Linked DNA regions of Homo sapiens. The protein of the gene in region 1 purifies or fractionates together with the protein of each later gene. This does not show direct contact. Each region holds a gene or a part of one and is shown in the gene's direction. Other genes may lie near its edges.

Region 1 (3,500 bases):
CATGTCTATGAGCAAGAATAAATGAGAAACTGCTGACTTGCTTCTGGGAAGGTGGTAACAAAGGAATGGTGTAGGAAGGAGAGCTCTTCTGTGTGAACCCATCTGTACTTACTACTCTTAATACATTGTAAGTTAAAATTATATTTTACTAGCTTAATTTTACAGTGCTGGTTAAAGATGTCTTTAAGTTTCCATTACTACTTGTTTCTGCCATCTACCTCTCTCATCTGTTGATACAGTTTTGCCATTGTTAGGACCAGCATCCCTAGTAGATTTTTTATTTTGTTTTGAGACTTTCTTTCTTACCATTTGCCTGTAAATAATTTCCTAACATAAAAATGGAAAAATGGCATTTGAATTATTTTATTACTTATTTTTGTGATTAATATTTTCATTGATTTGGATGGAGCATAGTGCATTCCCAGGGGATGGGATATGTGTCCAGTCTAAAACCTCCACTTATCCAAGTTCCTGTTTTTAGCTGAAACTGTTACACCTTGTCTTAGTTTTGAGTTTCCTAAAAGGATAACTTGAGTCAAAGTCTTGGGTGCAGGTTCTTTGAAAGATTATCCTAGGAAGCAGAAATGCCTGAAGAGAGTAAGATAAGGAGAAAAACCAGTAAAGGAAGTGTTATTATACTTATTGCTGTGGACAGCTGGGGCTCATCCTACTGGGGATCCTCCGAAGAACTGGTTAAAGTGTATCTCCTGCTTATCCTCCTAAAACATTCAGGCTGGGCATTCGTCTACCAACTCTCCCCTTTGGTTCAAGGATGCCCACAAGAAACTTTTAACTCTTTTATGCTTCTGAGCTGTTCCTGCTTGTGGTCCGAGCACCCTTTAATCCCTTTGGGGGGAACCCTGAGAAAGAAAGGTAGAGAGGCCCAAAGTGAACACTTGAGGCCAGATACTGGCAACCCTCACAGATTGTGTACTGGGAAATCAATGGGTCAGTGATGGGAGGTTGGGGAGCAGTAATATGTAAGAGATGGGCAGAGAATGCATTTAGGCAGGATACTTAGAAGGAATAGAAAGACAAAATGAGAAGCAGGAGAGAATAGAAACTAAGGAAGCAAATAGTTTTAGGAACCAGTGAATGGTTTGTTGTGATACTGTGCAGAGGTTCAGAAGATAAGGATAGGAAATCATGTATTTTGTAACATAGATTGCAAATGGGGCTCTGGCAAAAGTAGTTTAATGTAGCAGTGGGAGAGGAAGTGTAGATGAAAAACCACTGGCCAGTAAGGATTTGAAATGGTGTAGGCCACTGTTTTAAGAAATGTGGGTGGATCACCTAAGGTCAGGAGTTTGAGACCAGCCTGGCCAACATGGCAAAACCCCATCTCTACTAAAAATAAAAAACTAGAGCCGGGTGTGGTGGCTCACGCCTGTAATCCCAGCACTTTGGGAGGCTGAGGTAGGCAGATCATCTGAGTTCAGGAGTTCGAGACCAGCCTGACCAACATGACGAAACCCTGTCTCTACTAAAAATACAAAAATTAGTCGGGTGTGGTGGTGGGCGCCTGTAATCCCAGCTACTTGGGAGGCTGAGGCAGGAGAATCATTTGAACCTGGAGGTTAGAGCATGCGGTGAGCCAAGATCTGGCCACTGCACTCCAGCCTGGGCTACAGAGTGAGACTCTGTCTCCAAACAAACAAACAAACAAACACCGGCCAGGCATGGTGGCTCACGCCTATAATCCCAGCACTTTGGGACGCCAAGGCAGGTGGTTCACCTGAGGTCGAGAGTTCAAGACCAGCCTGACCAGCATGGAGAAACCCCATCTCTACTAAAAATACAAAATTAGTGGGGCATGGTGGCGCATGGGTGTAATCTCAGCTACTTGGGAGGCTGAGGCAGGAGAATTGCTTGAACCCGGGAGGCAGAGGTTGCAGTGAGCTGAGATCTCACCATTGCACTCCAGCCTAAGCAACAAGAGCGAAACTCCGTCTCAAAAAAATAAATAAACAAGTAACAAAAACACACACACACACAGACACACACAAAAACTAGCCGGGCTTTGGTGGAATGTGCCCGTAAACCCAGCTACTTGGGAGGCTGAGGCAGGAGAATCCTTTGAACCCGGGAGGTTGGAGGTTCTGGTGAGCCGAGATCGGGCCACTGCACTCCAGCCTGGGCAACAGAGTGAGATGCTATCTCAAAAAAAGAAAAACTAGCCAGGTGTGGTGGTGCATGCCTGTAATCCCAGCTAACTCGGGAGGCTGAGGCAGGAGAATCGCTTGAACCCAGGAGGCAGTGGTTGCAGTGAGCCGAGATCGTGCCACTGCACTCCTGCCTGGGCGACAAGAGCGAAACTCCGTCTCAAAAAAGAAATTTGGCCAGCCTGGGCAACATAGGGAGACCGCTACAGAAAATAAAAAATCAAAAAAAAAATAGCTGGGAATGGTAGTGTGCGCCTGTAGTCCCAGCTGCTCAGGAGGCTGAGGTGGGAGGATTGCTTGAGCCTGAGAGGTTAAGGGTGCAGTGAGCTGTGATTGTGCCACTGCACTCCAGTCTGGGCAGCAGAGTGAGACTGTGTCTCAAAACAAGAAATTTGGCTAAGAGAAAAAGTAAGAGACAAGGCAGCAGCTAGAAGGAGATGTTGGAGTCAAAAAGGAAGGTTTTTATTTTTTAGGAGTGGGAGAGGCTTGAGCATATTTGTAGGCTGGGAATAATGACTCATTTATAATAAAAAGTCAGTGGAGAGGGAGATGTTTATGATGTAGGAGTAAACAATAACAATTCCTGGGGCAAGGCTTGGTGGGAGATGAGGACAAGAGTACAAGTGTAGGAGTTTGGTTTTGGGCAGGAGAAAGGGAATCTTGTAAGTATGCAAATATAATACATTTGTAGTCTTGGAGATTGTAAAGAAATTTAAATACTTCTTACTAACAACTTTATTTTTAGTAGAATAGGTGATGTTTTCAGTCACTGAGAAGAAGCTAGTAATTAAATACTTACTGAGTGTTTTTTTCCCACCATATGGAGGAGGTATATTTGGGTATCAGACAAGAGGAAATAAAGGGCCCAGAATGGTTGTGCTAAGGAATTTGGATTTTATTTGTAGAATATGGAAAGGTATTGAATATTTTGGAGTAGCAGATCTGATATGATCAGAGTAATATTCTCAGATTTTGTGTTGCAAGATGTATTGCAATGGAAAAGAAATTAGAGTTACTAGGAAGATAAGATAGTCTGAGGTTTCTAGGTACTGGGTTTTAAGTACTTTGCCCTTAACAGGTAATGGAAAGGCAAATATTGTGCTTATAGTGACAGAGATTGTGAAATAGCCATTATATTATATAATAGTACTAGGACTTGGCAACAGGACCTAGTAGGCGAAGGGAAGTGAGAAGAAGCTAGAGATTTCTAGCCAGGGTAGCAATTGGAGCTGTGGTTTTATTGACAGAAACTGGTAAATTAGGAAGGAGAGTGAATTTTGAAAGGAAAAATAATTGTACTTTGGAGGGTTTGTTTTTGAAGTGGTGGCAAGGCTCTAT
Region 2 (3,500 bases), on another chromosome or scaffold:
CTGGATCCCCAGTGAGTTAACTGAATTATCAGACTTCTAACTAGTTTAAGTCCCAGGCTGAAGCTAACAACATTACTTTTTGCGCTCTCTGTAGATATTCCTAGTAAAATGACCCAGAGAAAACTGGGTTTGGGGTGCCTTCCCGGGGTAACAAAAAAGAACATTCTTTGGTAAATGAGATATCTCCACCTAGCAAACAATCCCCAGTGAGGGCTGCTCGGCTTTTTGCCCATCACGACCTCCCACCTTTCATGAAGATTGGATGCTGAGATGATGATCAAGGCTGGAGAACCATGCTTCATGTGGTGGAGTACCTGTAGGTGGATTCATACCAAATCCACTATCAGTGCTTGGCTGTTTCAAAATAAACACCATTTTACACTCTTTAATTAACTTCACCCAGAGAGCTCAGAAGGTTTTGATGCTTTTTATACATTTTTTTTGTATGTTAAGACAGGGTCTCCCTGTATCACCCAGGCTGGAGTGGAGTGCAGTAGTGCAGTCATAGCTCACTGTAACCTTGAACTCCTGGGCTCAAGCAATCCTCCCACCTCAGCCTCCTGAGTAACTAGGACTACAGGCATGTACCACCACACTCAGTTAATATTTTAATATTTTGTGGAGATGGGGTCTCGCTGTGTGTCCAGGCTGGTCACTGACTCCTGGCCTCAAGCAATCCTTCCGCCCCAGCCTCCCATGTAGCTGAGATTACAGGCATGAGCGACCACACCCCACTGTTTTTTTAAATGCTATTCCACTGTTACGGATTACACAGAAATTCCTGATACACTCTTACTACCCCCACCCCGTTTTTGTCTTTCAGGTATAGGGCTCAAGGAATAAGCGCAAATAAATTTGTGGACTCCACGTTCTATCTTCTTTTGGACTTGATCACCTTTTTTGACGAGTATCATAGTGGTCATATTGATAGAGCTTTTGATGTAAGTTTCAGGAAAGGTGTTTGAAGTGCAGGTTAATGTACACCCTCGAAAATTCAAAACACTTCATGGAATTTACTTAAAACAAAGGAGCTGTTGCCAGTATGTTTGTTGTATAAAGAAAGACAAGTACAATCCTGGGACTTAAAAGGAGTTTCCTGTGTGGCTTTTTTTTTTTTTTTTTTTTTTTTTTTGCCTATTCCTTTCCCCTTTAATCTGAAAACAGAGAAGTTTCTCAAAGTAATTTGCAATCTCAGAATTTTAAAAATTGTGTCAGGAAATGATGATAAGAATTAAGTTAGCTAGTTAGAATCAAAGCCTTTGTGTGTACAAGGAGGAATGGCGTTTTCTATGAAGAAGCCCTTTGGAGTATGTGAGGTGCTGACTTTACATGTAGAGAGATGAAATGACTGTGATGGTTGTGTTACATGGGGCCGGTGGTTGTTTTAAACAGATCATTGAGCGCTTGAAGCTGGTGCCCCTGAATCAGGAAAGTGTGGAAGAGAGAGTGGCTGCCTTCAGAAATTTCAGTGATGAAGTAAGTTCCTTCTTCCTGAGTTGTGGAATTCCTTTTTCCCCACTTCCACCAAAAGCTTTTTCTTTTCCTGTACCTAACAGCTTTAAGAATTCTAGTTACAGTAACTATCCAGACTGAGTTTTCCAGAGTGGTTCCCTTTCAGATACCTTGGCCTGGCTTTTCTGTGAGTGCATACATCCCCATCAGATTATTGTCTGAATTCCTAATTGAGAAAATACAGTCACTTCAGTGATTGACATGTTCTTGGGAGAAACAGGTTTCTGGTTGATCTGTGAAGTCTGGTTTAATTCTTCTATTATCCGCTTGTGCTAGAGGGTATTTTAGTGCTTAACTCTGATCATCTTTAAGTAGTTCCATTGGGTACGTGAAACACATCATGATTCACTGCCACCTTTGCCCTCCCTTATCTGTTTTGGGATTTTTTTGTTTTTGAAACGGAGGAGTCTCACTCTGTCACCCAGGCTGGAGTGCAGTGGTGTGATCTTGGCTCACTGCAAGCTCTACCTCCCGGGTTCACACCATTCTCCTGCCTCAGCCTCACGAGTAGCTGGGACTACAGGTGCCCGCCAACACGCCCAGCTAATTTTTTGTATATTTAGTAGAGATGGGGTTTCACCGTGTTAGCCAGGATGGTCTCGATCTTCTGACCTCGTGATCTGCCCGCCTCGGCCTCCCAAAATGCTGGGATTACAGGCGTGAGCCACCGTGCCCAGCCAATCCATTTTGTCTAAAGACGCAAGTGCAGTGACCGCGGAGTAAGCTATCACCCCATAAGCCCCAGAGCCACTGTCTGTTGGGTTTCTAGCATATTGCCAGCATCTAGCCTAGGGTGCTCAGCTGGGCTGCATACTGGCATCTCTAGAAAAGTTTCTAAAAACCCTCATGCCTACACCCCAGAGATTCTGTTTTCCCTGATTGCTGCAGCCCAGACCTCCCCCAGTCATTCCAGTGTGTGGCCCAGGTAAATTCTTCTCTAGAACTATAAACACTCAACTCAGCTGTCGACACTATAGACTCTAGAACCAGCTGCCTGGCTCTGGGATGTCACTAGTGGTCTTTCAGTTTACAATTCTTCCTCATTGAGCAGATGCCTTTTATAAAATGTCTCCAGCCAGGTGCGGTGGCTCACACCTATAATCCCAACATTTTGGGAGGCTGAGGCGGACTGATCACCTGAGGTCAGGAGTTCGAGACCAGCCTGGCCAACATGGTAAAATCCCATCTCTACTAAAAAATACAAAAATTAGCCGGGCGTGGTGACGCATACCTGTAGTCCCAGCTATTCCAGAGGCTGAGGCACGAGAATCGCTTGAACCCGGGAAGCAAAGGTTGCAGTGAGCCGAGATTGCGCCACTTCACTCCAGCCTGGGCGATAGAGGGAGACTTTGTCTCAAAAAAAAAAAAAAAAAGTTTCTATTTTAGAGAAAGAAGTAAGGCCAGTTCTGCACATGAAGAGGGATGTTGACTGCTGTGGTACACACAGTTCAGAAGGTCTTGCCCCTTGCTGACCTTCCCTTTATACCTGCTGTGGCTTCTACCCTTAGCCACTTGCTCCTTTGTTATTTCTGGCCTTTCCTTGAATGCATCCTTCATTGCATCAGGGATTAAAGTGGTACACGAGGGCCTGGCCTTATAGACACTCCCAAGGACTCTGGTAGGGTCATGCAGATCTAGTGGAAACAGCCCGGTGAGTTTGAGAGAGTGAGGAGTGGTAGGGACTGTGGAGAAGTAGCGTGTGCACCTGTACCTCCTGACATTCAAGTTCAAATTATTTAATGGCAGCCACTCTGCTGGCCAGTCTAAGCCTAATGCTAACCAGATGTCAGCATGCTTTTGGCTCACTGCCCCTGACTAAGGGAAAAACAGCATAAAGGAGCAGGAACAGTAACCACCTGACCTGAGCAGCATTGCTTGGGTTTTTTTCTCACACTTGATGTTTCAGTGCCATCAGCTCCTTTTGGGTGACTGTGTGGCTCTCCACCTGGCAATGGTGAGGAGTGGTGCAACCAGGCCTGCCTGGAGCA

The links. The genes of interacting proteins can lie anywhere in the genome.
Region 2: the proteins of VIRMA (region 1) and NUP93 purify together in Homo sapiens (affinity purification with mass spectrometry; 2 studies listed by BioGRID, with this or other methods). This does not show direct contact.

The regions. Positions count from the first base shown.
Region 1 is NC_000008.11:94,522,470-94,525,969, reverse strand, and holds part of VIRMA (protein virilizer homolog), read left to right. Parts: intron 1-3,500. UniProt on the Homo sapiens protein: Associated component of the WMM complex, a complex that mediates N6-methyladenosine (m6A) methylation of RNAs, a modification that plays a role in the efficiency of mRNA splicing and RNA processing.
Region 2 is NC_000016.10:56,838,129-56,841,628, forward strand, and holds part of NUP93 (nuclear pore complex protein Nup93), read left to right. Parts: intron 1-823; coding exon 824-941; intron 942-1,392; coding exon 1,393-1,476; intron 1,477-3,500. UniProt on the Homo sapiens protein: Plays a role in the nuclear pore complex (NPC) assembly and/or maintenance. May anchor nucleoporins, but not NUP153 and TPR, to the NPC. During renal development, regulates podocyte migration and proliferation through SMAD4 signaling.